Linked DNA regions of Homo sapiens: regions 2, 3, 4, 5, 6 and 7 are each linked to region 1. Evidence: fine-mapped expression QTL. A gene starts in region 1. Each other region holds a variant in brackets. All regions are shown on one strand. Distances are between the middles of the regions.

Region 1 (4,614 bases):
TTGTTAGTTGCTGCCAGTCGCACAGTAAGCCCTCTGTAGAAAATGTTTATTGGCCACATTTTTTTAAAAAGCGAATAAACCTCAAGATTAAGACCTCAAACCAAACTATTCCAGTTTCCAATTGCTTACAGCGACATACTGAGAAATCGAGTGACTCTCAAGAGAAAGGCCATTTTGAGGCTGGGGTCGAACCAAAATCCAGGGGGTCCACACCAGGTCAGTACCCCGGAATTGGCTGTTTTGCAAGATTTCGGGAGTACCAAATTGGCATGAGACATTTGACAACGAGGCCAGCCATGCACCGAGCTCAGGTTTTATTTCCGTTGTCCTTCTGACGTCAGAAAAAGCACGAGTTGCTGCACAGTTTCTTTTATCAAGGTGACAAATTACACCCTCGCTGGGCCCTGCATTCTGCAAACCATAAATTTATTTTCCTCCTCCCCCTTATATTGAAAAATGTAAAAACCCACTGCAGAGAGGTCAAAACCCCTTCCAAACGCAAATAAATACCGTTTTCTAGCAGAGGCGTCTTTTTTCACTTTTGCTACACACATCACCGCGGATTCGTCCGAGAAAGTACGTGATCCTGGCGGCAGTTAGGTTTCTAACAGAGAACGAGGGTTTGTACAAACCCCGGGTCCGCGCCGCAGAGCAAGACAAAGGACTCTGAATTGTAGCACCACCTTCCCCAGCCCAAGGCAGCCTGTGAAAGGCACTGGGAGCGGCGTGACGCGGGTACCGCGAAATTCCTTTTGCTGCCATATGCACTTGTGCCTTCTCTAACTACAGTTCAGCACAAACCTCAGGCGGGCGATTTGGCAGGCAAACGGTGCCCAGGCAGCCGGGTAACCTACTGGGTCCCAGTGGGTGCTGGGGAGCCCCATGCGCCAGGAGGTGGATAATTTAGGGGGCAAGGGGCTCGCACAAGGGCGAAGATGCGCTCTCCTCCCGGCACCGACCCACGCGTTTAAAGGCCTCTGCGGCAACGTTTAGGGACGCGAACTAGGTGCCGGGGGTTGGGGAGGAGGTGGGACTGGAAGCGAGAGCAGTCTGCGCCCAAGACCGCGCAAGAGGTGGCCTTTTGTTCGCTGGCTCCAGCACATCCCGGCTCTCGAAAAAACACTACCTCTGTCCCCTGCCACCCTCTGCATTTTAGAAAATCCTCTTCAGGGCAGGAAAGGACAGTGAGTCACTGCAAGCATCCTTTAGTAATTTCTCCCCGCGCCCTCCTACTTCCCCGCGTTACAGAGGGGCAGAGCACCAGGAAGGACGGCAAACATGCCCCGGTTTAGTGGTGGTCCGCGGCCGCTACCCAGCCGGCCGCACGCAGCACCCCCCGGACATCACACGATCTCCTCTGGGCCTTGCGGACACAGGAAATTTTCACCAAAGGCCGGGGATTCAAACACTCCCAGAACACGGTCGCGCCCTCGGGTCAGCTGCGCTCTCCCTCCAGACGTGCGTGGTTCCTGGCTCTCGTAAAAATGGAACCAGATCTGGTACCACACTCTGCCACAGCCACAGGAAAACACACCAAAGTCACAGGAAAACAAACCAAAAAGTAAGCCACAGCCCACGCAAAGGTGAACTCGGGGGCCCTGGCGCTTCCTCCCGCTGCCGCGTGCGTTCGGGAAGCACAGGAGACCTGGACTTTTCCTCTCCTAAAAGCAACATCCGAAAGCATCGGGCACAGCCGAGCTCTCTCTGCTTTCACGCCCGCAGAGATGATTTCTACGTTACCTCCTCCTCCGACATCTAAATCTCCCCTTGCCGCTCGCCCAGCCCTCCCCGGGAACGGATAATCACCTTACCTCCGGAAATAAAGGGAAAGGTGGCAAAAGGCGATGTGGAGGTGTCCGCCCTTCCGGGGTTTTTACCCTCGGCAGTTTGATGTCCTTTGTGTCAAGGTCTGGCTGCGGAGGCCGGGAAAATGTGGCCCCCGTCAGTAAGGGTTGGGCAGGGAGCTTGGCGTGGCCTGGCGGATTTCGGAGGAAGGTGAAGGGCGGAGGCTCCTGGCGACCTTCTGGCGGAGTGGCGTGGCCGCCCCAGTCCGCGCTCGCCTGGCTCTCCTCCTTTCCGGGCCGATTGCATCAGAATCTCCCCTCACCACCAACCCCCACTCACACTCTGCTCGCCGGCCTCGCACTTACATCGACATGCACCGGCGCTGAGGGTCACGAATCGGAGTCATTCTCCTACTGGGGGACGCGTGGCCCTTCCGCAACCATGGCTTGTGATGGTTTAACGCGGACAGGCCATTCCTCCCCGTCCCGCGCGCGGTCTCCTCCCCTCCTGTGCGCCCGCTCTTTAACCAAAGCTGCGTGTCAGTGAGCCGTGCCGGTCACATGGTGTCACTGCTGGCGGCCGCACCTTGCTGCCTCCCTCTTGCAGCTCTCTGACGATGCAGCGACCGCGGCTGGCGGAGATTGAGCAACGGGGAAAGGGTGAGGGAGGGGTTGCGGGGCGCGCGTGTGCCCGGCGCACTGAAGCTGGCACCGGGAGCAGAGGCTGCGCGCCGCCCTGGCACCTGCCCCTCTCCCTCCCGGGGCCCGGCGGCGTGTTCGGAACCCAGCTGCGGCTGCAGCTGGAGAATGAGAGCCCTTAGGGATGGGGGTGGGGCGGCTAAAGGGGCACCGGCGGAGGACAGGAGGGCTGTGCGTTCCGCTGGGGCCTGCATTTTGGGTACGCCAGAGCCCCGCCGGGGCCGAAGGAGCGAGGGAGTTGCATTGTGGGAAGGGCGCAGCATGAGGATGGCCGCGGGAGTGGCAGGTCCGAGCGCAGCCCGGAGAGCCGCGGGCAGCGCCTGGGACTACGGGCAGCGTTGGAGCGGAGGGCTGGCCCTGGGCACAGCCTGCAGATGGCCCGGGTTGGCGGGAAGGGGACCGAAGTGGCAGGGGCGGCGGGGAGCTCGGGCACCTTTAAAAACCCTTTGTCCCTAACCTGAAGCGGGAGGCACCTCCCCTCTTCCGGATCCAGCACCCGCAGACCTGGTCAGCCCTTCCTGAGATCTGCCCTGTGGAGCTCTGCTTTGGGGACTGGGTGTGAGGTGAACCAGAAGGATTTGCTGAGCACCGAGAAAGCACCGGCCTAGGCGCAAAGAGCCGGGGGCCAGCTCTTGGAGGGCCTGGAGACCCCACGTGGTCCCGACCGAAGGACCTGGTGCGTCCAGGTTAACGGAGCTGGGGCGCTCCAAGTCCGGGGGACGAGGGAGCGGCATGGAGGGGAGCAGGGGCAACTGGGCCTGGTTCCCTTTTTTCCCGCTTACTCTTTGTTTCAGACACAGCCCCCTTTCACTGGCTGGGCACTTGCTTGCAGAGGAGTTGTGTCTTAAAATGGCGACAGGAAATCCCACCTGCGCCTCAGCCAATTAGACTGTCATAGCGCGAATTTGCAGGGTGGAAACGCGAGCTTTTTATTGATAGGGAAGGTTCAGTCTCCTGTTCATGGTTCATCAAAACAGGAAAGGGAAGGTGAATCATAATTCAAAAATTAACTACCTGGAGCGTTTCAAGTAGACAGTAGTCATTGTATTTGGGTGAATTTTGCTTTTTCATCACCACTGGAAAAGCAAGATGATAACCAAATTTGAAACTCATCACGGACTAAACTTCTTATTCCCTTCGAATGGCAGTAAATGGCCTTTATTAGTTCAACAGTGGCTTCCTGAGAATCCTATTTAGAAGGCATGCTCTTGAGAAATACTGAAAAACAGAAAGTTCAGAGCAAACCAAAAGGGCAAACACATGGGCAGCCTAGCTCAGACAGACCTGCATTCAATTTCTTCCTCTGACACTTACTGCTTCCCTCATCTGCTTTACTTTTGTCCTAATCCTGTTTTCTAAATTTGTGAAAAAGGGGAGAAGAGTACACACAACATAGCAATATTCTATAGGTCATCAAAAAGTTGGTTCTTTCTACCTTACTAGAGGAAGCTAATTTATTGTGAAATTAATGATTTTAAGTAGTGTGCACCTTGCCTGGCACAAATAATTCTTATCAATAAGGTAAGAAATCTGAATAGGTAAAGTAGATGAACTGTGAGCCATAGCTTAATAGGCCTGTTGGAATATTTACCTTATTAAAGGCAGAATGTGTATTCATCGCTGTTTGGAGATTATCTGAACCAAGCTTGTCTTTTGGTTCCAATTTTAACTTACTTGCTAGTTTCTGTATATCAAAACGACTGCAGTTATTTAGCACTTTTTGAATTGGAATCAACAGTTATGAACTGAGCTCCTATGATATGGCAGCTATTGTGCTAAGGACTTTACATGTAAATATCTCATTTAAAGCTTTCAATCCCTCAGTTGGGTATTATCCTCTTTAAGAAAACAAGTACAAAGTTGAATTGGCCATGTTCACCTAAGACAGTAATTAGTGAAGGGGAAGCGATTCCCTTTCAGGTCTGAATTCAAAATCCGTGCTCAGTCTTCACAGTGGTGCTACAACCATTTGCAATCAGACATTCTTGGGCCTAGAGTTAGAAGGATCTTCACCCCTTCTCTGGATTTTAGTTGACAACCTAGAACCAGAGTAAACATCAACATGGAGGCTGCTGTTTTCTCAAATTGAGGCCAGGGATGTCTAGATGATTCCTCTATTCACTGTGTGCTT
Region 2 (4,614 bases), 110 kb before region 1:
AGGAAAATATAATAAAAGACTGAGGTACCCAAGATGAGGAAAGAGGAGATTGCCACAGGCTCTTGTCCTGAACTCTTGTTTTATAAACTTTGCTCTCTATTCTTTAGAATTCCTAAAACCAAGATTTTCTGCATGTCAGATCCAGGAACTTTGCTTTCCTTATGGCATAAAAGCTAGCCAAAAGAATCACTGTGAAGGTTCTCATCAACCAGAGTAGATAATTGGTTATGGGGTATGAAGGATGGCTACTGATACTCAGTAGACAGGATTCTAAAATTATATTAACTTTTTCCTAGAACTTTATCAAAGTGACAGTTTTATATGTATCTCTGTGTACAAGAATTTGAAGCTAGCTAAAATCTAAATCTGAAAATATCTTCTATAAAAGAGAGGACTTTGTAGTTTTTTTTTCTTTCTCTCTCAGTGATGAAAAACTGGATAGAACCATAAACACTTCAAAGGATGAGAAATCCACATGGGCTGGAGTCCTAGCCAGAGTCCTTGCCAAGATCACTTTCCTCAGAGGATTTTCATGCTCTTCCTTTCTTTGGGGAATCAAATTTCCCAGCCACCTCAGCCCAAGACGTGCTGTAGTTACATGTACTCACTTTGTGGCTTTATATTAAGAGGTAAAATGAGGAGTGGTAATGCTAAAAGGCAGTGGGTATGGAGAGATTTCCTTTGGATGTGCTTTCACTTGGGTTATACCAGGTACTTGGAATTCTGTGTTTTACTTTTGGATAAAATAATTCTTTGCCAAAATGTTTTCTTCACTAGCGTGAAGCCATCTAGCTGAATCAAAATGGAGCTGCTGCCTGCCTACAGATTTTTTATGTGGGTGAACATTATTGTTTTTTAGAGAGGTGAGAATATTTATTTCCTTCCATTTTCATTCTTCAGAGATTATTCTATCACTTTGGATTCAGCACAGGTTACCCAGCAATTACTACTCACTCTTCTTGGGTTCAAATAAATGAGTTTGGTCCAACGTTTCCTGTATTTTAAAATGGAGGCAGTTCATGACGATCAGGATTTGGGGAGGAAGTGGATTTAATTAGACAAGGAAGAGGGTAGGAGACTGGACACCATTTGGGGCTATTTTCAGCTAGTTGAGCCAAATTGTTATTGACCTAAAGCTGACAGTTTTTCTGTGGCCTGCACAATGTGAATTTAGTGAGCTCAGCCAATTCTCAGAGGACAAGCTCTTATATTTCTAGACATACCAGCAGTGGTTCCCGACATTTAGATTTCATGGACAAGTACAATTAAAAATAAAAGAAGTATGGAGATAGAGAGAAGCCAAAAAATCTTAGGAAAAGGTCAGCCCTTTAAATGGAATACTTTCAAATATATGAAAGAAAAAAAAAAAACCTCACTTCAATGTGCTCGATTTTCTCATTTTTTTCCTGGCCAGTGAAAACTAGATCCTGGGACAGCACTGGACACACACAGATGTTTGAGAACTACTGTTCCCAATCTATGAATGAGGCTGTAACTTTTCAACCTGCAAATTCACTTCAGATATTTAAGAAGAACCTTCTAAGTGAAAATATGAAAGTGAACAAAAGCTTTCCTTTTTAAATACACTTGTGTAACCAATTGTTTGGAACAAGTCACCAATGATGCCTTACTTCAGTTCACTATTCTTTCAAATAAAAGATGTATTTGTGAAATTATAATCATTCAAATAGCCATTTTGAGGGCTATGTTTTTTTTTTTTTTCAGTCACAAATCTAAGTGACCCTGAGAATTGTAAAAAGATACTATGGAAATATCAATAGTGTTTTTATGTTTTGAGCCAATGATTTTAAACTTCCACTTGCTAAAAAAAATCAAGAAAGATGAAGTATGAAAACAAGCACGTAGATCTTTCTTTTGTATTACATGTGTGTAACTAAGAAGCCAGTACTCAGATAAATGGCTACAATCTTAATAGCTCGCTCCTGGAAAGCCAAAACTGCATTTCTCTTTTGTCAGGACTGGAAGCATGTAAATTGATTGCCCAATTAAGGAAAGGTTGACTGAAGGTGAGTAAGGTTTCAATGTTCCTGACTTAATTGCTCAACAAGCTTTATTAAGGGGCTAAATGGAGCAGCAAGGGAGTGGCTGGAGTGCAAGGGACTGCTTCTCACCGAGTATTATTGGACGGCTGCCAAAGACAGTTA[AAAAAT/A]AAAATAAAATAAAGCTGCTCAAGCGTCTTATGCCATGAAGAACAAGATTCTTCATGTTGGGGCTCGCAGTTTTAGTTATAGCAAACTGATTACAACATACATAATTTCTAGTTACAGATAAGGGGCCATTTGCACAGCATCTAGTAGTTTTCATATAATCTTGCCCTGGATTCTGTAAGTTAATAGAGGTAATATATTATTATGGAAAAAGATGGAATCTGGCAAAGATCTCAGGCACTGAAGGAACCAGCTGTTCCGTAGCAATGTGATTTTGCACGCTTCTTGGGGCCTGGCATTCTTAAACTTCCACCAGCGTTAATTCTTACTGGTGAGTTTTCGCTCTACTGGGCCTGCTTATGCAACTCAGTGGCCCAAAAGTCTGATGTCACAGCCTAATGCTGCGTGTCCTCTGCCAAGAGTCTTTTCTGTGGGCACACATTTCTGATGAGAATCTACCCTGTTTTGACTCTTGACTGCATCAGTCTCTGGCAATTACCCTTGTGAAAATAACTCCTTTTTCAAGCATGCAATGTGTCTGGCTTTTATCCAATGGTTTAATCACAAACTCTCTGTGACAGCTTTACCTTGAGCAGCCCCTTAGGGAATTCAGAAGAGCTAGGGTTGCATTTGGACTCTCTAACTACAACATTCTTTTGGCTTTTATGCTGGCCTCAGATCTGGTCTAAACAATGATTTTGTACTTGCTGAGCAGAGTTTTTCACTACTTTGTTCCATGAATTCAAAGGAAGCATGGAAAATGGCACAGATAAGATCATCTTAATGTTAATAGGGGCGCTTATTGTGGGCTTACTATGTGACAGATACTGTGCTAGAAAATTTACAATATGCTATCCAGTCTAATTATTCCTTACAACCATTCTATGGGATGACTATTATTATTCCCACTTTCTGGTTGCGGACACTGAGACTGAAGGAGATTAAGGAAACCTGCCCAATGTCACTTAGCTTTTAAGTAGCAGAGGCAGGATTCCAACCAAGGTCAGTCTGAGTCCAGAGCCATGTTCCTACCTCCTTGCAAATTCTCCTAGACAATACATTTGTCCTTGGGCCTTGTGGGGGAATTGTGGAACAGAAGAACAGGCATTAACACACAGAGAGAGACACACACAGACACACACACACAGACTCCAGAGTCTAGCTTTGCTTCCCATCAGACATGGGACTAGTGCTCATAGAGCTGACTGGGGATATCTCTACCTGCCTAGGACACCAAATCTCTGTAAAAGACAGCCCGCTTCCTGAAGCCTCGTCTAGTGGAGGGAGGTTCTGACATACTGTTTTGTTCAGGCTGGTCCTCCACCCCAAGAATGGAGCTCTGCTTCCTACCCTACCTACCTAAGGACTACTCTCCAAAGGAGTACAAGAACCCAAGCCAGTTCACTGCAAGGCAGGTTATGCTGGATGCCTTTTTGGGCAGGATGTAAGGCCTGTTTCCTACCTTATTTCCATTTTGTGTGGTGGTCTGATATAAGGCTTTGCTTGTGGGCAGTGTTGTAGCACTGGTTATAGCTGAAACTGCCCCATGAGGACAGGCTCCTTCATCAGTTAACCCACTTACCATAGAAGTTGGACCCTCCTTACCAAATTTGTCTCTAGTAAACGGTGTTATGAGGTTCTAGCCTAGATTTAATAAATTTACATCGTATGCTTCCCCACCCCCAACAAAGTTGGGAAAATTGAAAAAAAAAAATAGTCACTTTCACAGTATTATTTTGAGAACTGAAAAGTACGAAGTAATACAAAATTAATAGAAATTTCAAAATGACAAGCATTTTGATATGTCCTTCTAAAATACTGATAAAGAGAATTCTTCTTTCTGAAAGCAACTGGGTTCTGAAGAGACAGGGTGTGTTGAAATTTCCTATGCTTTTAAATGGTTCTGGAATTCTACTTGATTGTTGGGGATTTGGGGTATCATTTGGAAAGCAAGATAACCCAAGAGCAAAAAACAGTCTTTTGGAATTATCCTAATATCTGCTGAATTCTCTTTAGCTTCGATGATAATGAAGGTGAACTGGGCAAAAAGAGTTTGCTTTGAAGTCTCCTTTAATAAAAGCCAAATCATTTTGTTTTAGAGAGACGTTGGAAAGATAGGTATTCTGTTAGCTAAATTTCCTCTATTGAGTTTCCCTTTAAGAAATAATCTAGAAGATCTTAAGATCATCTGATTATTTGCTGAAATCAAATTATGATAACTGGGGAACCCCTTAGATATGACTTTCTACCTGTTTGGTACCAGACAGTGGGTTGCTCGGCGAGGAAAGCATACTTACAGATTGCAGTTCATGATTGCATTGTTCTAAATCATGGATGATGCTACAGATGATAGTCTGTCTACTGCAATTCGGCCTGGGGTTAATTGATATTGAGAGAGGATGTTTTAGCCTCAAATTCTGCTCAGTTCCTGTATTTGGCATGAAAC
Region 3 (4,614 bases), 48 kb before region 1:
TATGCCCAGGAATGAACAAGGACAGCTTAAGGGTTAGAAGCAAGATAGAGTTGGTTAGGTCTGATTTCTTTCACTGTCATAATTTCCTTGGTTATAATTTTGCAAAGGCAGTTTCAGTTTCTTTATCTATAAAATGGGGGTAATTAACAGGGTTGTTATAAAGATCTCATGGAACAATGTACACTTTACAACTATCTTTTCTTTTTTAAAGTCCTTTATAAAATTAAAAGTCAATCTTACCTAGCCAGCCACACAAAAGGAGGCTGCGGGTGGCTTTGGTCTGCAGGCTGTCCCTTGCTGACCCCTGATATAGATGCAGATCTTTGAAATCATGTGCCTGACATAAGGTAAAGTCTGTGGCCAGAGAACAAAGCAAAACTAACTGGCCCACAAAGGAGTAGTTTTCTAATTAAACCAACTACCACTCTGTGAGTAATAAAAGTTCAAGCTAACCTTGAAAATCCAACTCTCTGCACCACACTTAACCTGCTCTACTGTGATAACTCCAACCTGGCCTACTGTAAACCAGATGAGTGAGCAGAGAAGGCATTCTACCAATCATGGAGGTAAATAATGCTGTAAAACCATAGCCAGTATAGTTAAGTTGTCTGTTGCAGGCTAAGAAAAATACACTGTACCAAAACAGAGATCACACTGCTGTCCTTGGATAGGACCAAGGCACCTGAGGCAACTCAGCATAAATAGGACTGAGTGAACTCAGGGTATACACTCTAGCGCATGTGCGCGCACACACACACGCACACACACCCCTACCTTTCTGGGGCTAAGAGAATTGAATTCTTAGAACCCCCTTATCAGATGCATCACAGACGACTCATAAACTAGCAATAGCTGCTCAACTTCTAAAAACAATGAGTGGGACTCATCTCCTACACATGCCAACTATTTCTGTTTACAAAATAGGCACTCATTGTTAACGCAATGCTAACCACTTTCCCATTTCCCTATTTCTGAAAAGCTTCTTAATCCAGTGGATTTCAATAGAGTTCAATGGCACTGCCACTGTCCCTTTTCCATGTATTTCAAATGTTGGCAAGCCTGAATGTGCCATTTCTCCCTCTCCCGGGTTATTACTCCCAAACAACAGACTCTGATGTCAATGATTTTTGCTGCCAGCCAAAGGACAATTTTCTCTTCAAATCATTTCTAAGGAACTGTGACTATAACTCAAAGAATTCTAAAAACAAGAAACTGATTGGCAAGAGGAAAGATGAATGTGACTAGTCCGATGGACCTCCTAGGATCATCCGGAAGAGTAGGGTTTCCTTATTGACTTCCTCTTAACTGCTCTGTCTTTAGATCACAAGATCCAGTTTGGTATTTCCTAAGGAGGCAAAGAACTGCTCACTTAGGAATGCACAGAGGAGATGACTTACCATTTATAAGGAATAACTTGATAAATAGCACACAGACCATCTTCGTTGCCACTGAGAGCAAAATTATTATCTTGGTAGGTGTCATTCAACCTTTTTGGCATATATGTAAAGTAATAAAGCAACGATAGCTTAAGAGCAGGCCAAGTTTGTATAAAGGTATGCTGCAATCTCACTGCAACTTAGTAGAATTTGCTGAAAAATATTTAGAGACATCAGAAAGTGATGCTGGTGCAATTGGTTAAGAATATAATTCTCCCGATAGAATGAGAAGACTATTTTTTGTGATGGGATAATAATGATCAAATTCCCATAACATACAAGCAAGGACTTAGGGCAACGTGCTGATGGGTCTATACTTTTACTTCTATTTCTATTTACTCCTTATGTAGGCTCAATTGTAAAACACTAAATTTAAAGAGAGAAGGGACCTGGTAGTCTGATCTCAGTTTACAGAGACCCTTATATTTTTCGACTTATCCTTACTGGAAGGGGTACTAACTGATTTGTTTGTAAACATGGATCATAGACAATACAATGGTGCATAGTTTTGCTGGTAGGATAATTACAAATGGCCCACAAAGGAGAATATTGAGAGACAGACAGAGAGACAGGGAGGGAGAGAGGGCCAGAGAATTCACCTACAATTAAGTGAACAATCCACCAAAGTGAAGATAATTGCTGTAACTGACAATGACAATTACTGTCCTTTTCCCAAACAGCAATTTAACAACAAATGCCCTTTTGCAATACCAACCTCATCTAGTATTTCTTAGCAGTCTCAGAACTATTTTGAATTTTCAAATGAAGGAGGCATTCCTAGGAAAGTAGACAATGAGCAGCCAGTCCCATGCTGACTCTGTGATTATTATCACATCTCCACAGCCTACTAAAAGTCTGAGGGTGAACTAAACCTTTCAGTTGATCTTTTTTCTCTCTGATAAATTTGCAACAATAATGAAAGCCACTGTTTTGCCCTAAAGCCTTGTTTCTGGTTTTGCAAAATCTAATTCTTACATATCCATTCACT[T/C]ATTTCAGTAAAACTTTGCTGAGGAGCAGCTACGTGCAAATGCTGTTCTAGATCGTGTTAGCGGGAGGAAGATGATTTCAACAAGGAAGAATTTGGCATTAATCCTGCCCTTGTAGGGCTCAGCATTCAATAGGGAAGGTAAAATGTATGCTTAAATAATGGAAGTGATACTTACTATTAGAAAGATACAAATGACACTGAAAAGGAAAGGAAGAGAGACCTCCCTTCCACCTGGGAGGATCAGACAAGCAGTTTTGGAGGAGATAACATCTGATCTAGGCCTTCCAGGACCATGAGGATTCAGAAGACAGAGATGAGACAGGGTACGGGTGGGCTCTGGAAAGACCAAGGTAACAGTTTTAAGGCAGGCAGCCTCTACAGAAAAGGGAAGGTTAGTGTGGCAGAAGCTGAGGTCATCTGAAGGGAAAAGAGGTTGAAAATACAGTCTGGAACAAGTGGCACAGCATTGACAGAGTCCTCATTCTAGCTTCATGGTCTAACTATCTACACCAAAAATATATTTTCTCTCTCAAGTTTTTAGCAGGTAAGAGGAAAAAGAAAAAGTCTTACTGCACTGGTGTTAAGTTCTTCAAAAAACCAATTTTTTCAACTAGCTTTTTTTTTTCCTCTAAAAGCAGGTTAAAAATAAATTCAAAGAGTCTAAACTTTCCATCTCCACTCCACCTCTAGACCCTTTCTCACTCTCCAGAAGTAACCACTGCCAACAGTTCTCTTGTGTACCCTCCCCAAATATTCTGGGCAATATAATGTATACATATAGACACACCCTCCTTCCATGCTCACTTCCACCCAATATTCAGTTTGTATTCATGTAATAGTACTATGCTACACAGTATTAATAATACTATGCTACGCAGTAACATAGTGCTACACACTATGTTCCCCGTTACAACCTAGGAGATTTTTCCTCACCTGCCCATATAAGTCTATTTTACTCTTTTAAGTAGTAGTCTAATACTCTATTTTATGAAAGTACCATGGTTATTTAACAAGTTTCCTAGGGTTAAACTTGGTATTATTTGATTTTGCTATCACTTGGTGTTTAATTCTTAATAACAAAATGTTTAGTTACTTCTTTCAGGAGTTCAACAGCTCCTGAAAGCAATGGGAAATCTTAAATTGCACATGCAGGAACCCACATGACAAATATGAAGCCACTGAGAGGTTTATTGGTTTCACAATATACTTTAAGCATACATTTTACTTGTTGTGAACAGGAACCTGACATCCTCGGTCTACAGTTTGGTACACTTGATATTGCCAAGCTGTTTTCATGACAGTAAAGGGGATGGTTATTGGTGGAACACTAGCAAGATAATTCAGGAACACTGGCTGATTTTATAAGGTGATTTTAAAGGTACATTATATTGGAAAGTAAAAGGTAAGTACTAACTTGCAAGCATCCGTTGATAAAAATAAAGTTTTTCTCAAGTTGTAGAGTAATAATGCAACTTTGGTGTCTGAAGAAGGCATCACCAAAGGCGGTATGGTGTTTTAGATCACGCTGGCTCTAGAGTCAAGCAAGCCTGGATGGGACGCTGGCTCCCCTACTTTCTAATGTGTGATCACAGGTAAGTTATTAAGCCTCAGTTACTTTATCTGTAAAATGGGGCTAATACCTACCTCATAATGTTGTTGGTGGGGATTAAGATAGTGTAGCATATATAGATACTGTTCAGTAAATGTTAGCCATTATTTAGTGACTACCTAATACTAACTGTAGTATTTTAACAAATATCTACAGTGTGTACTATGCACCACGCACTACTATCACTCTCTCCATCTCTCTTTCTCTCTCACATTCACACACACACACACACACACACACACCCCACTCATTTATTCTTCCTAGTAGCTCTATGCGTTGGTACTAATAAAAGTCTCCTTGCATGCCACTTTTCAAAGTCTGTTTTTAGATAAATTATCTTTTTCACTCCCACAACCACAACACAAATGAGATAGAAAATGGAAAAAAAGAATCCAAAAGGTCTGGTATTATAATCAACCAAATAAAATTTAAACTATTGTTTTACACACATTGTACTTTTGTTTCACAATTAACATTTCAAAGAGATTGTTCACAAACTCAGTGTTAATAATAAACTGATATCTCAGAAGTGTCGTGAATTCTACTTTTGTTTTTCATGGTTTTCAACTTAAGGACTACAT
Region 4 (4,614 bases), 71 kb before region 1:
GGAAATGCAGAAATCACCCATCTTCTACATCGATCTTGCTGGGAGCTGCAGACCAGAGCTGTTCCTATTTGGCTATCTTGGAAGCAACCTCAGGTATTTCTTTATTAGCAGTGTGAGAACAGACTAATACAGATTACTAAATCCAGAATCCAGAGAACACAAGATTATAAGTTCCTTGCGCTTGAGCATGTTCAGTGAGAGCGCTGCAGGGAGAAGGATGATGCATTCTGAGAGCCAACAGGGCTGGACTGGAAACTGGAGGAAGAGAAAGAGCTAAGGAAGGAGAGGAGCAAATTGGGGGTTGACATGGCTGCACATGGCATACCATCCTGGGTCCAGTCTAACTCCCAGTGGTCCTTACACAGATGGAACCCTTGTCTAATGCCATTTGGAAGACCCTACTACTAGTTTCATTATGGGACCAGGGTTGGAGAGGCTCAGAATTCATGGGCAGCAGGCCTCCACCATTTTCAGATTTAATCTGAATATATTGTCCTGTTGTGCCAGAGTGACTGTTTCTTCCTCTCTGTCCTCATTAAGCCCCTACAGATAAGGCTTGGAAGGATTTGGGAATTAAGGCTTCAGGGGTGATCATGTTGGGGAACTGGATGCTCTACTAGCATCAGTGCTGCTTTTCCTAAATGCACAGAGATGACCCTCCTGCCTACACCTCTCATCTGGATCTGTTGACTCAGGTAACAGGTACAATTGCAGTGCTTACACTAGCTGGGAGGGCAGCTGAGAAGCCTTCTCCAAGACCAAGCAAAATGGAGCTCCAGAAGGGACTCAGGTAGCAGCCACTTCACCCCTGCTTCCCTCACTGTCTCCAAGTGCACCACGTTCAAGATGCCCTTGAACTTCACCAGACCTGGAAACAAGAATCCCAATATAGAAAGGTAGTTTTTGAATCCAGGTCTGTTGTTCCAAAGCATATCTGTCAAATAATAAAAAAGACTATTTAAGCTAACTCAGACATTTTAATTAAGGCATTGCATGTTCCCTGGGCTGTAGGGAGGAGTTACATGACTAGAAATCATATGGAAACAGTGGACTGCATAACATCTGTGAGTCCCTCGTCACTTCCTCTCTTGCTGAAGACTAGACACTGTCCTATAGAGACACAGGAGGATGAATGTCCATTCTTCTGACTGGCCATGCCCTGGATCAGAACAAAAGCTGAGGCACAATAACAGTAAAACCAGAGGGCCGGGCGCGATGGCTCATGCCTGTAATCCCAGCACTGTGGGAGGCCGAGGCAGACGGATCATGAGGTCAGGAGATACAGACCATCCTGGCTAACATGGTGAAACCCCGTCTCTACTAAAAATACAAAAAAGAAAAAAGAAAAAAGAAAAAAAATTAGCCAGGCATGGTGGCGGGCGCCTGTAGTCCCAGCTACTCTCTGAGGCAGAAGAATGGCATGAACCCGGGAGGCGGAGCTTACAGTGAGCTGAGATCTGGCCACTGCACTCCAGCCTGGGCGACAGAGTGAGACTCCATCTCAAAAAAAAAGAGTAAAACCAGAAAAGATATTTGGAGGGATGGGAGAAGATTCTGATATGATATTTTAAATATCTCCCAAGTAGCAAAGCTACAGGGCTTCTGCCTCCTTTCAAGGCAACTGAAAGTAGTCTTGATAGAGAGGTGGACTATTTATTTTGTAAATTTAAATGGAAAACTAATCAGAAAAGTTAGAGTGGCTGGCAAGAGACATACCCAAATTCTTTGAGTTCCTTTATCTCCATCCTGGTCTGTGATTTTTAAATAAAGAGATGAAGGAAGAATGAAAATAAGCATGTTAGCAGATGTAACTCCTGTAAAATAAGACAAAAGAGAAAGTTTAGCATTGCTATTGTGAAAATTTCCCTGCAAACAGCTACTGTAGAATGACAAGCACAAAGTCATGAAGCCATACCTACGACTCCAAAAATATCCTTCATGGAGGGTATGAAGATCACCAACAAGTTGATAACAACCAAGAGTATGCAGGTAACCACGGTATGACGACATAAATTAAACTTTGTTTTCTTAGCCAGTTCAAATAAAGATGAACGAACCTGCAAGAAAAGAAAACAAAGATTCTGTAAGTGCCTACAGCATGCCAACATTGACATTTCTCTGCAGAGTAACTGATTTATTGGTGCACAGGAATTCATGAAATGTTTTGTAATGCCTAGTGAATTTATAGATAGCTTAACAGTTTTGGAAGTACGGGGGCTTGACTTAAGAGGGAAAGTATTTTTATTTATGAGTAGTAGAGTTTTCTTGT[T/TG]GGGGGGTGTAATTTCTGTCTTTGGTTTATCTAAGACTTGAATGTTCATTTCTGTTCTTTTTATATTCTCTCTTCATGTCTACTGAGATTTGAACATTCTATTGTCATTTCTTTGGAAAGAACAGGGTCAGATTAATTAGAATGGAGATTCACTGCATCAGAGGCTCCCTGACGCACTGAATGCCACTTGCTTTTCAAAGAGCCTGAACCGAGTCTTGGGATCTTTCCCAGATGCAGATTCAATAACCCAGGAAAGTTACCTGGGGCAGGCTTTCTCTGCAACGGGCTCCTGCAGGCAGAAGGAAAGCCGAGACCTCAGCTTTTCTCATATTGCACAGAGGCCCTTACTCACCGTGAAAAATAACACCGGCACTGTGAGGATCACAGCAACAATGACAGCCAGCCGCACTGTCAGGATGAGAATGTCATCTTTACTCTGATATTTGTGAAGGAGGTCGGACTGCACGTTGTCTAAAATGAGGGAAAAGCAAGAGGGTTTTAAAAGGAGACAAAGTATATAGCTGAATGACAGTTTTTCTGAAAAACAAAGAATCTGTAAACTAAAGGGCAAGAAAAGCAATGTTTCGAAATGTCTATTAAAACAATCAGGTTGGAAAGAAAAATCTCTATGTAAGACATGCTCCACTGTGCATACGCGACTTAGCAAAGAAATTTAAAGTAATCACTGGAAGAAGCTACATGGAGTGGGAATGCTTAATTTAGACTAAATTAAACCTAGGAGTACACTGGGCTCGAGAATGAAACATACAGTTGAAACGCGAAGCTGCTCTTAATCTAGACTTTCCCTCCACTCTTCAAACCACACCAAACTGCCACAGGCTTGCTCAGGGAGGGGGTGGGGTGGGGAGAGCTACAAGCCACCTTGGAGCTTGTTTCAAACTCTTCTCTTGTTAAGTCAACTTCAAGTGGCCAAGCAGCAGAGACACTAGTTGAAATTTCACCATCAGGAAATAATTCCACTCTTTCATGTATGTTGTTCTTGTAAAAAAAAAAAAATTAGTTTATGTACTACTTTGTGTGTGTGTGTGTGTGTGTGTGTGTGTGTGTGTGTGTGTGTGTGTGTGTGTTGAGACAGGGTTTTGCTCTATCACCCAGGCTGGAATATGGTTGCCATAGTGCCATTTTGGCTCACTGCAACCTCTGCTTCATGGGCACAAGCAATCCTCCTGCCTCAGCCTCCTGAGTAGCTGGGACTACAGGCATGTGCCACCATGCTTGGCTAATTTTTGTATTTTTTTTTTTTTTGTAGAGATGGGGGTCTCATTATGTTGCCCAGGCTGGTCTCGAACTCCTGGGCTCAAGCTATCCACCTACCTTGGCCTCCCAAAATGCTGGGATCACAGGTGCAAGCCACCGTACCTGGCCTTATGTACTACTTTGAACTTTTTCTCAATCCAGAACTTCAGAAAGTGTTATTTCAAAGACTAACAAAGCTAGAATGGCAGTCACATAGAGTATGGAACTGCTCACTCTTTTGACAAGAGGTAATTTCCCCTCCTGTCTCCTGCAAGGGCCTCTCACTGCACCAGTCTCAAGGTCCTCAGCATGGAATTCAAATGCTAATCTGTACCATAGAGCTTAGCTTGGTCTCAGTTTCCAAAAAAGAACCATAAGTTATAATACCAATCTCACTAGTTCTAATTTCCTTAATTCAAAATAACTAACCACTTAAAAAATAGCTAATCCTTTTTCTTTAATCCAAGAGTAATAAAAGTGTTTGGTGTTCTATTCTATGTGAAAAATAATGCATCTACAAAGAAAAATTATAGCTTCAACAAGACAACAGTGAGACTTCAACTAACATTAAGTTCTCCGCCTCTCTCTCCCTGTACAACTCTGTATGCACCTTAGCAACACCATTTTTATGTAAAAATTAAATGTGGTATTTATGAATTCATTAGACAATGCCATTCTCTATTGCTAGTGAAAACAATAATAATATCTGTATAATCAGAGTAGCCTTTTTCTCCAGGCTGAATTAATACTTTTTAAATGTGTTTAATTTTGAGACATTTGTGTTTATGAAAAAAAGTCCCAAAGAATTATTATTTAGTAGAGAAGATTGTGAAATACATACATATATATATATATACACACACATATATATACACATATATATAGACACACATATATATACACATATATATATTTAAATTAGGTCCCCAATTATAAAGATAATGAAAGATATTAAATCAAGCTTCAGGATAATTTGAATAGGAGAGGATGAAGAAGCAGTAAACGCCGGTAAACTGTTCATTCAGGGTCAGTAAAAGTTACATATGAAAACTTGTTCCCTTTTTCAGATTTCATTTTTTAAAATTTTC
Region 5 (4,614 bases), 89 kb before region 1:
ATTAGCCACTTTTAAACAAGAGAAAAGTCGAATGGCCCTTAAATTCTGAATAGCAGCCAAATTTTCTTGAAAAGGGGATTTTTAAAAAAGGAGCCAATCAGGCAAGCACCACTCCAAAGGAAGGATGTGACAGTGTTTCTGTGGTTTAACCTGAGTGCCCCAAGTCAGACATTTCTGCACCAAAAATTATTGAGTCAGGCAAAGTTGCAGAGGCACCAGGACAGCTCCTGGGAAAATAATATTGTCTCCTACTCAATTTTTTCCCTTTTGGGTTTTGCTACTTTTCATACTTCACTTGTGGATTAAGATAATCGTGGAAGGAGCAAGAAACAGTAAGAGTTCTACAGAGGAACTCACCATGAGGACATCAGGAGTAGAACCTGGAATCAGTATCAAGTTTCAACTCCCATGCGTTGGGGGAAAGTGAGAGGGTTGGGGGAAAGTGAGAGGGTTGGTTTTAACACAATGTACAGCTGTAAACAAAAGGCCCCCCTGAGCCAGACAGGGTGGAGGGTATGGATTGGGAGTGAGCTGGTGGCAAACTGAGGAGCCATTCCTTGCTTGGGCTCCGAAAGTGACAGCTACCATAGCACTGTGTGGATTGGGGTCAACCTTCCTCTGCTGCTTCAGCCCTCCTCAAGTTGTGGACCTATGAGGACATGATTGCAGCAGCAGACACAGATGTAACAGATTACACAGGGCCGGTGTTCAACAAGGACATCATGTGGCAGTGGCGGAAATGAATGAGGTGGGAAGGAAGCCTGCTGTGAAGCCTACATTCACCAGTTCTCTCTTTGCCTGGAGTTTGGAAGCAGACACCTCTGGGTTCTTGCACCATTTGGAAGTGGGAAAGAAAGAGGTGTTAGGCATCCTGGAAATTTGGCCAGGGGAATATTTTGAATAATTTGAACCTCAAACTGAAGAGGCAGGTCCCATCCATTGCAACATATGAGTGGCAAATATTAGTTTTGTATCCCATTTGGATTTTCAGATTTTTTTACATGTTAGCACTATTGTATGTCATACAGAGTTTTAAAATATTTACTGATCAATTACTTCCTCTGTGGCTCCTATGTTTTGTAACAAGAGAGATCTTCTGCACTCCAAGGTATTATCTATATAAGATATAGATATATATATTGCAAGAGAAAAATTGCAAAGGACTTTGAAATGGGCAAAACAGATTATTAGGTGACCTTTCAGTGGAATACCACGTGGTCCTTCAAGGTTATCGGTAAGGATACCTAAGATATAATGGATAACTATTAGTTACTGAGGTAAATTAACTACAACTTTTGGTCTTATTATCAAATAGGTTTCTGCTTCCTGAAACTAACCTTAGTCTCTGCTATTAACTACAAGCCAAAATTTGGTTCTTCAGCAAAGAAAGAGCCTCAGAGTCTCATGGAAGAAGATTGCACCAAGTACTTTAAACTATCGAAGTCTATTCAAAGAATAGACTCTTGGGTACAAACCCTGAGCTGATGGTATTTAGACAATTTTCAGTCTGTACCTGTGTAATGAGTATGAATTTACAGGAGTCTTTTCAATGCAGAAGCACATAGCTTTCTGAATGCAGAAATGCCAATCCAAAATTCAGCAAAACACAATTACAAAGGACAGAATGAGCTGATGAGGAAAATTTTCACTGTGGTTGTATTGATGTTGTTTTAAGGCTGTATTTGCTGGATATATAAGGAAGACATTTCTCTTTCTTCTTAGGCTATCTTCAGTCTACAACAATTCAGTAGACTCTGCTTTTGTAAAATAAAACTAAACATTTTCTTCCTGCTTTTCACTGAACTCTCCCCCACCCCGAGTTTAAACACTGTGACTGAGTTACCTTTTTGACAGCAATGTAGTTATTTGCATAGGTTCAACAAGAGTCTTTTTCTTTCCCGGTGCATAACTGGACAAAATTGAATGTCACCATGGCCTTACTTGGAAGATCATATGTGAGGATGATGGTCATTTAACAGGTATGTCAAACAACTCCAAGGAACAAAGGTTAATTTTATTTCTGTAGCCAATGCCTACAAAACCCTGGCTTAGTACCAACCTTCTAGGGTTGTAACCTAGAGCCTAGTACCTAAACTGGTCTATAGGATCCTATTATGATGGGTGGTGACAAAGAGCACTTCCTGGCAGGCCATGAACCTTAGTAAATTTAAGCGACCTCAAGTAGAAAGGAATTCATCCAAATCTATAGATGGTATAGGTGAATACGGTGGAGTCTCTCGGGCTTGCTTTCCTAGCCCTGAGCTAGCAAATGATGGAGACTTTTTCCCCCTCAACCCATAGAGACTTTTAAAAGTGCAGTTCTGTGGCTCCAGTAGCTGTTCAATAGTACATAGCTCTAGAATTGCAAACCAAATTCAAGGAAGCTTATGTGGTTAATTAACACCCTTGCCGCACCCATGCAAATAATCAGGCCAAGGCTAATGGGACCATTCTTTTTATGACCAAGAATAATCTTTGAGATTTTTATAGTCACAAAGGGGAAGTTGTTACGGAAACTGGAAAGACTTTAAAAGAAGCAAAAAAGATTACTGGGTGGGTGTACTTTCAACGAAATATTATATGCTGCTTCTGGGTTATCTGATTCTATAAGAGTTTTGCCT[C/T]GCACCCCCTTTTTTTGTTTTTTGAGCTACTTTATAACCCTCTAAATTGTAGAAAACTGAGAGATGGAAATGATTATTGTCCAGACATACAAAATAATTCTGTCTGATTAAGATGCAATTAATTAGATGACGAGTTAGTGGGTGCAGCGCACCAGCATGTCACATGTATACATATGTAACTAACCTGCACATTGTGCACATGTACCCTAAAACTTAAAGTACATTAAAAAAAAAGATGCAATTAATTTCCCCCTGTGGACAGGCCAGTTTTGCATCTATTAGCAAATTCATTTTAGAATTCCTGATTGCTGATATATGTATCTGTTCTTTGAGTTCTCCTTTGGACCAATTTTTAAACATATTACTTGTTCCTTAATTAATAAGCTAACTAAATTTTTTGACACATACTTTATTTAAGTCATGGTTTCATGCTTATAAAAATAGATATATTTACACATGTGTTATTTAAAGTCTTTAATATATCTAAGTTCTCTTTAGACATAAGGGGTAATATAGAAATCTGGTTTCATTTTCTTCAAAAACTATGTATTTTTTCCTATCATTTATTAAGTAACCTTTATTTTTCCCCATTGATTTGAAAGGCCACCTTTCTGGTATTTTTTGGATCATTTATGCATTCACTATTATGATCTATTTATTTATTTGTACCCAGTTCAATTCTAAGTGCTATGGCTTTATATAATTTGGGTAATTTGTCAGGTTATTTTGGTGGTGTACTGACTCTCCCAATGAGCAGATTATTCTACCAACTTGGATTAGCCTAACATGTAAACTAATAAAAGATTTTTAAAAATTGATATTCAAAAATTGGCCTAGTTATTTGGGCCTCATCCACCCTTTCCAAACTAGGTAGAACACAATTATAAATCTAGAAAGTAAGAAAACAGGACATCTGAGTTGCAAAGTTATCATTAAGCCCCGTGATGGTTAATATTAGGTGTCAACTTGATTGGACTGAAGGATGCCTAGATAGCTGGTAAAGTATTGTTTCTGGGTGCATCTGCAAGGGGGTTGCCAGAGGAGATTGACATTTGAGTCAGTGGACTGGGAGAGGAAGACCCATCCTCAATGGGGGTGGGCACCATCCAATAAGCTGCCAGCATGGCTAGAACAAAGCAGGTGGAAGAAGACGGGCTAAGCTGGCTTGCTGAGTCTTCTGGTGTTCATCTTTCTCCCATGCTGGGTGCTTCCTTCTATTCCTCCTGCCTTTGGACATCAGACTCTAGGTTCTTTGGCTTTTGGACTCTGGGACTTACACCAGGGGTTTGTTGGGGGCTCTCTGGCCTTTGGCCACAGACTGAAGGCTGCACTGTCAGCTTACCTACTTTTGAGGCTTTTGGACTCGGACTGAGCCACTACTGGCTTCTTTCTTCCCCAGTTTGCAGACGGCCTATTGTGAGACTTCGCCTTGTGATCATGTGAGCCAACTCTCCCTAATAAACTCTCTTTCATATATACATATATCCTATTAATTCTGTCCCTCTGGAGAGCCCTAATACAAGCCCATAGTTAATTCCATGGGAAAGGCAGAGAATAGCTCTTCCCTGACAATTCTGTGTAAAAAAGGACGGAATGGAACAGTATTAGCAAATACTCATGGAGGGAGAGTAGAAGGAAGAAGCCAGAACTATCAAAGGCACTGCAGGACTGGCCCTTTCAATTTGGAACAAAATCTGCTCAGATTCTCAATAGTCTTTTAACTTTTACCACTGCTTGAGTTTAAAAGTGCTAATTACTCACTCACACCCTTTGCCCTTGGGGTTTTGATCAATTAAGAAGTAGGCATAGGAAGCATGTAAGGATAAAAATATCAGCTTTATTCCTAACGAAGTTATATTGGAGAACATGACTTGGACTCCCGTACCCCAGGTTTCTACTTTGAGTTTTGCGTGTGTGCCACCGAGGCCCTACAGAATGCACTGCTGTCACCTGGGTAGGCCAGAAGAGTTCATCAAGGGGGTCTTCATTCCCA
Region 6 (4,614 bases), 79 kb before region 1:
AGTAATGGCACAGTCCTTGGTTGGGGAAGAGAAGAGGAGACAGCACAGACACTGAGACCCCCTTGTCTTCCTCATCTGGGGGAAGGAAGGTACTCAGTGATTCTGTCAGAAGCTCTTCACAAAGACTATCTCTGAGGGTTTTTTTTTTTTTTTTTTCACAAGACTAGATGGAGAATTAATGAAGAAGAAATAGAAATGAGGCTTATTTAAGGTACAAAATTCTTGTATTTGTAATAACCTAGATTTATAGATATAAAACAAGTCTTTTAAAGACTTCCCTAAAATACTCAATATAAAACAGGAGTTACTTATCCTAGATCATCCTTAGTTAGGTACACATGATTCTCTGTGCAACTAGCTGGTGGACATGAATAAAAGCTGCTGGGCCTATAATGTACTAAAACATTTTTCTCCCTTCAGCAAGACAGGTAGGGTTGAAGGCTAAATGCATCAGAGGAGTATTTTCTTAGGCATTTTGGACAATCTTTTTGCAGTAGGTTCCATAGGTTTTCCCCAGCGAAAGTTGACTCAGACCAGAGTAACTCTGACACAAGTTGCCAAGAGGGAAAAAATACTTCATTTGCTAGATTACCCAAATGTGTAGCTTCATTTAATTACCAAGGTAAGAATCATCCCCAACCACTTTTCAGCTGAGAACACTTGCCAGAGAATGTCTCTGGATGGGAATAGATGTGGTACCAGCTAGGCCACTGGACTACCCGAGTTCAGCTGCCAGGAAATCAGAGCCACCTCAAATATTGGGCATGCTCTGATTCAGCAGTGGCAGTGCCCTATAACTTTCAGATGATTATCTCCATGTGCTATGTTAACCAAAATAGGCAAATTATTTACGAAACCATTTTTTTCTGTAAAGCAAAATAAATATATACAATTCAAGATTCTTTTCTCTTCTAAAAAGGTACAGATAGTGTGAGCTGAACATCAGTAGGAAAATTATTTCAGAATCTGGATGTATAATAAATAAACATTATTGTATATCATGTTTTCAAAGTTCTAAGAGACCGGGAAGCCACAAAACATAGAGTTAGATGGGTAAAAAATGATTGTGAAAAGTACTGGGAAATATGATTGTATGAAATTTGAAAAAAAAATTTCACAATCCCTAAATTGATCTCAAATCTTGGAGGGACATGAAGCATTATAGAACCATGTCTCTGTTTTGCAACCAAAAAGTTATTCCATTTTAAGTATCCTGTACATTTCTGTTTGCTTCTGTAAACTTGCAAAAGAAGTGGTGAGAGATTGCTGATGTGTGGGGACTTGACTGAGCAGACAACAGGGATGTTTCTTTTTCTCGGCGGGTTTCAGTGGCCTTCGTCACTACTCGATGAGCAGGCCCAGTCATAGATGACCAAGGGAATGCTGACCAAGGAGAACAACACCCCCAGGCCCAAGAAAAGGGCAGCCTGGAGCAAGAGAAAGGCAAGGGTTATTTTCAGTGCAGCAAAATTTTTCCACATGTACCTGGGGAAAAAAAATAGAACAGTTTTTCCTCTCCCTTTGTGTCCTCTGGTATTCAGAGTTTGTCACAACCATGGCTGAACTGTGAGAATCTTTCTAAAATTTTATGAATCTGATTCTGCAAGGATGGGAAAATAGGAAAAAAAAAAAACTAGCTAAGCAGAGTAGTCCTCTATGTCCCATTCTTTGACTTCATGGTCACCTCAAGTGTATGTATCCATTCTACAAATAACTGGGTATCCTTATGGCTTCTCTCAAACTAAGATTACAACCAAGGGGGAATAAAGGCCTTAGAAAATATCCAGGTCATTTTGTTATTCATTACCTACCAACTTAGCTTATCACTGGCAAGCAAACATTTCTGTTTGAAAAAGTGGAAAAAAAACATACAAAAGCAAAATAGATTTGATTAAGTGAAATAGGAAACAGGTGTCAAAAACTAAGTTACCTGAAGGGCTGATGAAGGCCATAGGTGGACAGATGATGATATGGTTTGGCTGTGTCCCTACCCAAATCTCATCTTGAATTTTAGCTCCCATAATTCCCACGTGTCATGGGAGTTACCTGGTAGGAGGTAATTGAATCCTGGGGGCGGGTCTTTCCCATGCTGTGCTTGTGATAGTGAATAAATCTCATGAGATCTGGTGGTTTTATAAAGGGGAGTTACCCTGCACATGCGCTCTGCCTGCCACCATGTAAGACGTGACTTTGCTCCTTGTTTGCCCTCCGCTATGATTGTGAGGCCTCCCCAGTCATGTGGAATTGTGAGTCAATTAAACCTCTTTCCTTTATAAATTACCCTGTCTCAGGTATTTTTTTTTATTATTATACTTTAAGTTCTAGGGTACATGTGCACAATGTGTAGGTTTGTTACATAGGTATACATGTGCCATGTTGGTTTGCTGCACCCATCAACTTGTAATTTATATTAGGTATTTCTCGTAATGCTATCCCTCCCCGGGCCCCCCACCCCACGACAGGCCCTGGTGTGTGATATTCTCTGTCCTGTGTCCATGTGTTCTCATTGTTCAACTCCCAC[C/T]TATGAGTGAAAACATGCAGTGTTTGGTTTTTTGTCCTTGTGATAGTTTGCTTAAAATGATGGTTTCTAGCTTCATCCATGTCCCTGCAAAGGACATGAACTGATCCTTCTTTTATGGCTGCATACGATTCCATGGTGTACATGTGCCACATTTTCTTAATCCAGTCTATCATTGATGGACATTTGGGGTTCCAAGTCTTCACTATTGTGAATAGTGCCACAATAAACATACATGTGCATGTGTCTTTATAGTAGCATGATTTATAATCCTTTGGGTATATACCCAGTAATGGGATTGCTGGGTCAAATGGTATTTCTAGTTCTGGATCCTTGAGGAATCGCCACACTGTCTTCCACAATGGTTGAACTAATTTACACTCCCACCAACAGTGTAAAAGTGTTCCTATTTCTCCACATCCTCTCCAGCGTCTGTTGTCTTCTGACTTTTTAATGATCGCCATTTTAACTGGTGTGAGATGGTATCTCATTGTGGTTTTGATTTGCATTTCTCTGATGACCAGTGATGATGAGCATTTTTTCATGTGTCTGTTGACTGCATAAATGTCTTCTTTTGAGAAGTGTCTGTTCATATCCTTTGCCCACTTTTTGATGGGGTTGCTTTTTTCTTGTAAATTTGTTTGAGTTCTTAGTAGATTCTGGATATTAGCCCTTTGTCAGATGGGTAGACTGCAAAGATTTTCTCCCATTCTGTAGGTTGCCTATTCACTCTGATGGTAGTTTCTTTTGCTGTGCAGAAGCTCTTTAGTTGAATTAGATCCCATTTGTCTATTTTGGCTTTTGTTGCCATTGCTTTTTGTGTTTTAATCATGAAGTCTTTGCCCATATCTATGTCCTGAATGGTATTGCCTAGGTTTTCTTCTAGGGTTGTTATGGTGTTAGGTCTTACCTTTAAGTCTTTAACCCATCTTGAGTTAATTTTTGTATATGGTGTAAGGAAGGGATTCAGTTTCAGCTTTCTACATATGGCTAGCCAGTTTTCTCAGCACCATTTATTAAATAGGGAATCCTTTCCCCATTTCTTGTTTTTGTCAGGTTTGTCAAAGATCAGATGGTTGTAGATGTGTGGTGTTAATTCTGAGGCCTCTGTTCTGTTCCATTGGTCCATATTATCTGTTTTGGTACCAGTACCATGCTGTTTTCGTTACTGTAGCCTTGTAGTACAGTTTGAAGTCAGGTAGCATGATGCCTCCAGCTTGTTCTTTTTGCATAGGATTGTCTTGACTATGTGAGCTCTTTTTTGGTTCCATATGAATTTTAAAGTAGTTTTTTCCAATTATGTGAAGAAAGTCAGTGGTAGATTGATGGGGATAGCATTGAATCTATAAATTACCTTGGGCAGTATGGCCATTTTCATGATATTAATTCTTCCTATCCATGAGCGTGGAATGTTCTTCCATTTGTTTCTGTCCTCTTTTATTTCGTTGAGCAGTGGTTTGTAGTTCTCCTTGAAGAGGTCCTTCACATCCCTTGTAAGTCGGCTTCCTAGGTATTTTATTCTCTTCAGAGTAAATGTGAATGGGATTTCACTCATGATCGGCTGTTTGTCTATTATTGGTGTATAGGAATGGTTGTGATTTTTGCACATTGATTTTGTATCCTGAGACTTTGCTGAAGTTCCTTATCAGCTTAAGGAGATTTTGGGCTGAGACAATGGGGTTTTCTAAATATACAATCAGGGATCATCTGCAAACAGAGACAATTTGACTTCCTCCTCTCCTAATTGAATACCATTTTCATTCTTTCTTGTGCCTGATTGCCCTAGCCAGAACTTCCAACACTATGTTGAATAGGAGTGGTGAAAGAGGGCATCCTTGTCTTGTGCCAGTTTTCAAAGGGAATGCTTTCAGTTTTTGCCCATTCAGTATGATATTGGCTGTGGGTTTGTCATAAATAGCTCTTTATTATTTTGAGATATGTTCCATCAATACCTAGTTTATTGAGAGTTTTTAGCATGAAGCACTGTTGAATTTTGTCAAAGGCCTTTTCTGCATCTATTGAGATAATCATGTGGTTTTTGTCATTGGTTCTGTTTATGTGATGGATTACATTTATTGATTTGCATATGTTGAAGC
Region 7 (4,614 bases), 65 kb before region 1:
TACAGCCTGGGTGACAGAGGGAGACTCTGTCTCAAAAAAAAAAAAATAAATAAAGAAAAATTGAGAAGTATACGCTTGAGAAAATTAAAAACTAAAACTAAAAGCTGAACTATTAAAAGACGCCAAAGATATATGAGTGGATTCAATGCTAAATGACATCAACTTTGTTTCAAACTGGAAATAAATACTGATATTGTCGATCTTTTCTAAGTTTTTAAGATACGCTATTGTGACTATTTTTGTTTATGTTTGATAACCATAGGCTAAAAAGAGACATGAAGAAGTTTATAAGCAGGCCTTAATTTTCTCAAAACCAGCAATCAAAAATAAATCAATAAATCCATAGAATTTTCTTAATAGTTAAAAATGAACAGCAATATTCTCTTTTCCTAGTTTGTGGTCTTAATATTGATTTCTTATTGTCTGATTTACTAGCCTTTTCACCCAAACCCACAGGCAAATCAGAGACGATGTATTTAGCAGTTTACAGATAAATCTGAAGATTATCACCCACTTGCAAAATACGCATACGTAATGGAAAGCAACACAAATACTTAAACTTTCCTCGGTGATACAATATTTGAAAAACCAAATTAATGAAAAAGCCCACATGGTTGGCTACTTTTTATGTTTATGGCCCCCCAAAATACTGCAAGTTTCTGATTTTTCTTGCTTTCTTGTTTCTTAAAATACAATGCTTGTTTAAGAATGGCACAATGTGAGTAAATGTTGAAGCTGGGTGATGAATCCGCTGACGTTCATTAGACAAGTCCGTTTATTTTAATTGCATACTTGCCTATTAATGAGGGGATGTAAAACGATTAAGATAAAAAATTAAACAAATTTCTTACTCTTTAAGCTCACTGTAAATTGGCAGGACTGACGGGTGGCAAACAAATGCAAATGCAATGGTGGGTAAAGCATACACGGTCTATTTGAGAGAAAAGAATAGACATTAGGAAAAACACTTTTACCATAAAAAGGACATAGCTCCAGTATTTCTGAGCTGTCTTTTTATCTGACAGCTCTTCAGAATCCCTGGATTATTCGGTTATTAGGGAGGTTTTGATCTCTAAAGTAGAAGCAGCTTTTCTAAGACAGCTTGTCTAGCTCGAGCCATTAGCCACTTGTCACAGAGGGACTTCGGATTTGGCTCACCTATGGTGTATTTTATATACTCCAGGTATACAACACCCCCTGTTTATACAGCATGAGCCAGTTACATGGCACTCTTCCTAGGATAGCTCGCTGGGTCCCCACAGCAATCCCAAGCAGTAGGCAGACTGTGGCTGTTCTCCTGGCTCCCTCCAACAGGTCAGGCGACTGGCCCAGCACTCCCACCTCTAGTTTACTGCTCTTCGCTCTACATCAGGTGCATGGAATCGGACTTAAAAGATACCCTCTGAAAAGAAAATCTGTTCCATATTGCACTACTTTGGCTATATCCTTACAATCAGAGAGAAGGAGAAAGATCGCGATCTATTTAGTTTTCTTAGATAAGGCTCTTTGAAACTCTCACACTCAATCTAACTTCCTATGCAAAAAGAAGTGAAAACTAACCTATCTTATGCCCTAACTCTGCTGATGCACTATGCCAGGCACATTCTAACAAAACCTTGTAAGATACAGAATAGAATACTTATTTTTACTCAAGGGGTTGGGTGACTTGCCTGAGGATTCAAATCCAAGCCTGACTGACTCCATAATCCTCTGTTTCCCATTGTATCAACAATATTTTAATAGTATGAGAGTTTTTTAAGTGCCAGTTTGTGGTGGCATCTATATTTCAACTGTGCAACCTGAGGAAGTCTGCAGTATTCCTTTCTGTCATCGCCAGAAGAAGGGAGCTAAGGATGTTGTTAGTCTGTTTTTGAAGTATCACCTAGCACTCTACACAGAAAAAGCTGAGACAATTATCCAGAATGGGATTTTCACAGAGAATGCTTAATGGTAAGAGAGAGTGTAAAATATAATATTTGTATATTTCTCAAGGATCTCTACATAGATGTGTAATCTGGAAGCAATGGTATCATGTGTTCTTTTGAGAACTAATACATTCAAACCAGTGCAATTACAAGCATGAGAAATAGAATGTCCTTAATAAAAATGCTTGTTTCATCTGCAAAGGATCAGGAAACTTACCTTTGAATTGAAGGTAACATATTTTGGCGTACACGTGTCAGCATTTGTTGAATTAGCACTTATTGTTGAATTTAGCTCTGGAACAATGCAGGGAATTTGAAATTTCTTGTAAATAACCTGGTATTAAGAAGTATAGTAGAAGCAATATGGACTTTAGTAAAGCCAATGAATAATTATTACATGCCATTGTACTATCACAAAACCAAACCAACCATTGCAATCAGCACTTACCACAATTAGGAAAAAAACCATACAGCTCAAGGAAAATCCACTAGTATAGCCAAGATACCCTTTAAAAAAAAGTAAAAAATAAATTATTTCATTTTTTTCCATTTTTAAAAATTTTGGAGCTACCCATCATAAACTGTTATTATTTCAAAATTCATCACCTCACTTATTTCAGTGCATTATTTGAAGCATATTTTAGAGATCCAATAATAAACATACATGCCCAAGTGAATACAAGATTTATTATTTGACAGTGCTACTTTATTTGGCAAAAAAATGGGGCTCTGAATAGAAACATTATATTACGTGTTTTGATTCCAACTCTCCCTGGCACACTAGAGAACACAGATTCCCAGAATCCAGCAGAAAAGAGCCTTCCAATTTTTGCTGTAAGTCTGTGTTGGTGGACCCTGATGGAGTCCTATGGGCAAACCCATTTACTCCTTGATCCCCTCAATAGCTCTTTATTATGCACTTATTGTGTGCATACTGAATG[T/C]CAGTTATAATACTTTTCTCCCCAGATGACAGAGAGTAGATGAAGCGAATTTCTAGTGGTAAATTGAGTATCTGGGGCTCTTTAGTAGCTCCCCTTAGAATGCCTGGGAGATCTCCAATTGCTACCATGACCTCCAGAAAGGTAGAGTTAAGTAGCCTCTCGGGACTGCATTATTTTCAACCCAGGGGAAGAGCTTTTCTCTACTTAACTGAAAAGAGCTACCTCTATAGGTACAGAAAACACAGAGGCAGAAACCAGAAAATTAAGTAGTTAAAAAAATCTATTTATAAACCTCACAGAACAACTACAGAGCTGTTTTGTTTTGTATCCAAAACAAAACAAAAAACTAAGGCTCATAATTATTGTTTGGAGAGCTTTTATCCAAACTTCTGTTTGAATTAGCCCAGAATTAAAGTAAATACATTTTATAGGTTTTTGACTAGATGGCAGTCTGGTCACATTATTCAATGTATGAAATTCCCTTAACATCAGGCATCCTTGTCTCCAAATACAAGCATAAAAACAAGTAGTAGATCAAAGCCAAATGGATATGACTTGGAGATTATCCGCCATTTCTGACTTTTGATTTCTCTCTCCCACTTCGAAGAGAAATAATTGAGGCTGGTCAGACTCTCTAAATTTATAATACTTGTGGGTATAAATCTAGGCAGCTTTCTGTCTCCATATTAGATTTGAAAATGTATTTATCTAAATAATGAGGGTATTTAAGACTTCGTATGAAGAGAATTGCATTTTCTGGACTTTTCTTAGAGTAGCATATAAGTTGTACTACTGAAAATAGCCCTGTCTGTCCTGGCCCCAGGACCTCCCTTCTCCCCTCCACAGCTCAGTAGAGGGATTGTTTAGGAGGTCACATACTGACTGTTATTTTTATCCCATATTAAAGTTGGGACCGATTAATACTTGCAATTTATCATGTACTTAATCTTTGAGTGCATGCAGAGGGGAAGCAGAGGGCAACACTGTCCATTTTTATTCAGTTTCTGATTCACTTGGGCACTGCAGAATATGATAAAAGCAAAATCTGTCCTTACCTAAGTTCTTCAAGAGACACAGAGGGAGAATTATGCCAAAGGTAACTATCACCACCAGAACGCGGCCATCCACGTACCAGGCTCTGAAAGGCATTTAAGTGATTAGGTTATATTTTTTTAGAAAGTGACTTTTTTCCCCTCCAATGTAAAATTTCATGATATCATGATATATATTTTTATTAATTTTTACTATATGCATTAATTTTTAAAATCATTATTCAGGTCTTATCCAAACACTTTAACCCAGCCCCTACTTATATACTACAGCTTCACTCCCCTGTAATGGAAGAGGGAATATTGGTTTTTTTTTTTCCCATTGGCTAAATGTGGCATTCTTTTGAATTATTTACATGGTTTCAAAGCTGAATGCACACATTTCATTCTGTCAGATTACAACTTGTCCTATCAATTATTTAAAGAGAAAGCTCCTTTTTGTTTTGCTGGGCTAGTATCAGTGAGAAACAAGTCACTACAGGTAGACATTTCTCTCTCCCTGATCCCTTGGATTTGACCTTGAATCCTGAGAACACTAGAGACTCTGGCTTCTACGATTCTCCCTTGAAAGAAAACAGAGAAACTAAGACTGACAAGAACTGTTAAACAAGAGGGAGTCAAAACACAATTGTGCCAAATGTAGCTGCAACATTTTCCAGGGTTATCTACATCTTTAATGAGGTTGGCTCATGTAAATTT

Evidence for each region. PIP is the estimated chance that this variant, and not a neighbour inherited with it, causes the effect. A credible set is the group of variants that fine-mapping cannot tell apart.
Region 2: its variant is the best candidate, but not a certain one, in a credible set for the expression of SLC38A1 in thyroid (GTEx, PIP 0.89).
Region 3: its variant is the best candidate, but not a certain one, in a credible set for the expression of SLC38A1 in aorta (GTEx, PIP 0.53).
Region 4: its variant is the best candidate, but not a certain one, in a credible set for the expression of SLC38A1 in whole blood (INTERVAL, PIP 0.76).
Region 5: its variant is the best candidate, but not a certain one, in a credible set for the expression of SLC38A1 in T cells (TOPMed, PIP 0.78).
Region 6: its variant is the best candidate, but not a certain one, in a credible set for the expression of SLC38A1 in CD4 T cells (CEDAR, PIP 0.68).
Region 7: its variant is the best candidate, but not a certain one, in a credible set for the expression of SLC38A1 in whole blood (INTERVAL, PIP 0.54).

Annotation. Positions count from the first base shown.
Region 1 is chr12:46,266,715-46,271,328 of GRCh38, forward strand. It overlaps SLC38A1 (solute carrier family 38 member 1), which reads right to left and starts at 2,329. Exons shown (of 17, transcript NM_030674.4): 1 at 1,812-2,329. It overlaps LOC105378248 (a long non-coding RNA gene), which reads left to right and starts at 2,357. Exons shown (of 2, transcript XR_001749101.1): 1 at 2,357-2,444. RefSeq lists enhancers at 1-803, 1,729-1,788, 1,787-2,769, 1,909-1,958, 2,009-2,108 and silencers at 2,519-2,698, 2,779-2,878.
Region 2 is chr12:46,158,182-46,162,795 of GRCh38, forward strand. No RefSeq gene overlaps it. Among named protein-coding and RNA genes, the nearest start is that of SLC38A1, 110 kb to the right of the region's middle. The variant AAAAAT/A (reference allele first, on the strand shown) is at 2,166.
Region 3 is chr12:46,219,205-46,223,818 of GRCh38, forward strand. The region is part of intron 5 of SLC38A1 (solute carrier family 38 member 1); the gene reads right to left. Among named protein-coding and RNA genes, the nearest start is that of SLC38A1, 48 kb to the right of the region's middle. RefSeq lists a silencer at 721-780. The variant T/C (reference allele first, on the strand shown) is at 2,425.
Region 4 is chr12:46,196,004-46,200,617 of GRCh38, forward strand. It overlaps SLC38A1 (solute carrier family 38 member 1), which reads right to left. Exons shown (of 17, transcript NM_030674.4): 14 at 2,622-2,740; 15 at 1,916-2,057; 16 at 1,717-1,814. Among named protein-coding and RNA genes, the nearest start is that of SLC38A1, 71 kb to the right of the region's middle. The variant T/TG (reference allele first, on the strand shown) is at 2,270.
Region 5 is chr12:46,177,896-46,182,509 of GRCh38, forward strand. No RefSeq gene overlaps it. Among named protein-coding and RNA genes, the nearest start is that of SLC38A1, 89 kb to the right of the region's middle. RefSeq lists an enhancer at 293-422. The variant C/T (reference allele first, on the strand shown) is at 2,622.
Region 6 is chr12:46,187,645-46,192,258 of GRCh38, forward strand. SLC38A1 (solute carrier family 38 member 1) reads right to left here. Exons shown (of 17, transcript NM_030674.4): 17 at 1-1,427. The coding sequence ends at 1,326. Among named protein-coding and RNA genes, the nearest start is that of SLC38A1, 79 kb to the right of the region's middle. The variant C/T (reference allele first, on the strand shown) is at 2,522.
Region 7 is chr12:46,202,159-46,206,772 of GRCh38, forward strand. It overlaps SLC38A1 (solute carrier family 38 member 1), which reads right to left. Exons shown (of 17, transcript NM_030674.4): 9 at 3,922-4,004; 10 at 2,374-2,432; 11 at 2,143-2,259; 12 at 852-931. Among named protein-coding and RNA genes, the nearest start is that of SLC38A1, 65 kb to the right of the region's middle. The variant T/C (reference allele first, on the strand shown) is at 2,867.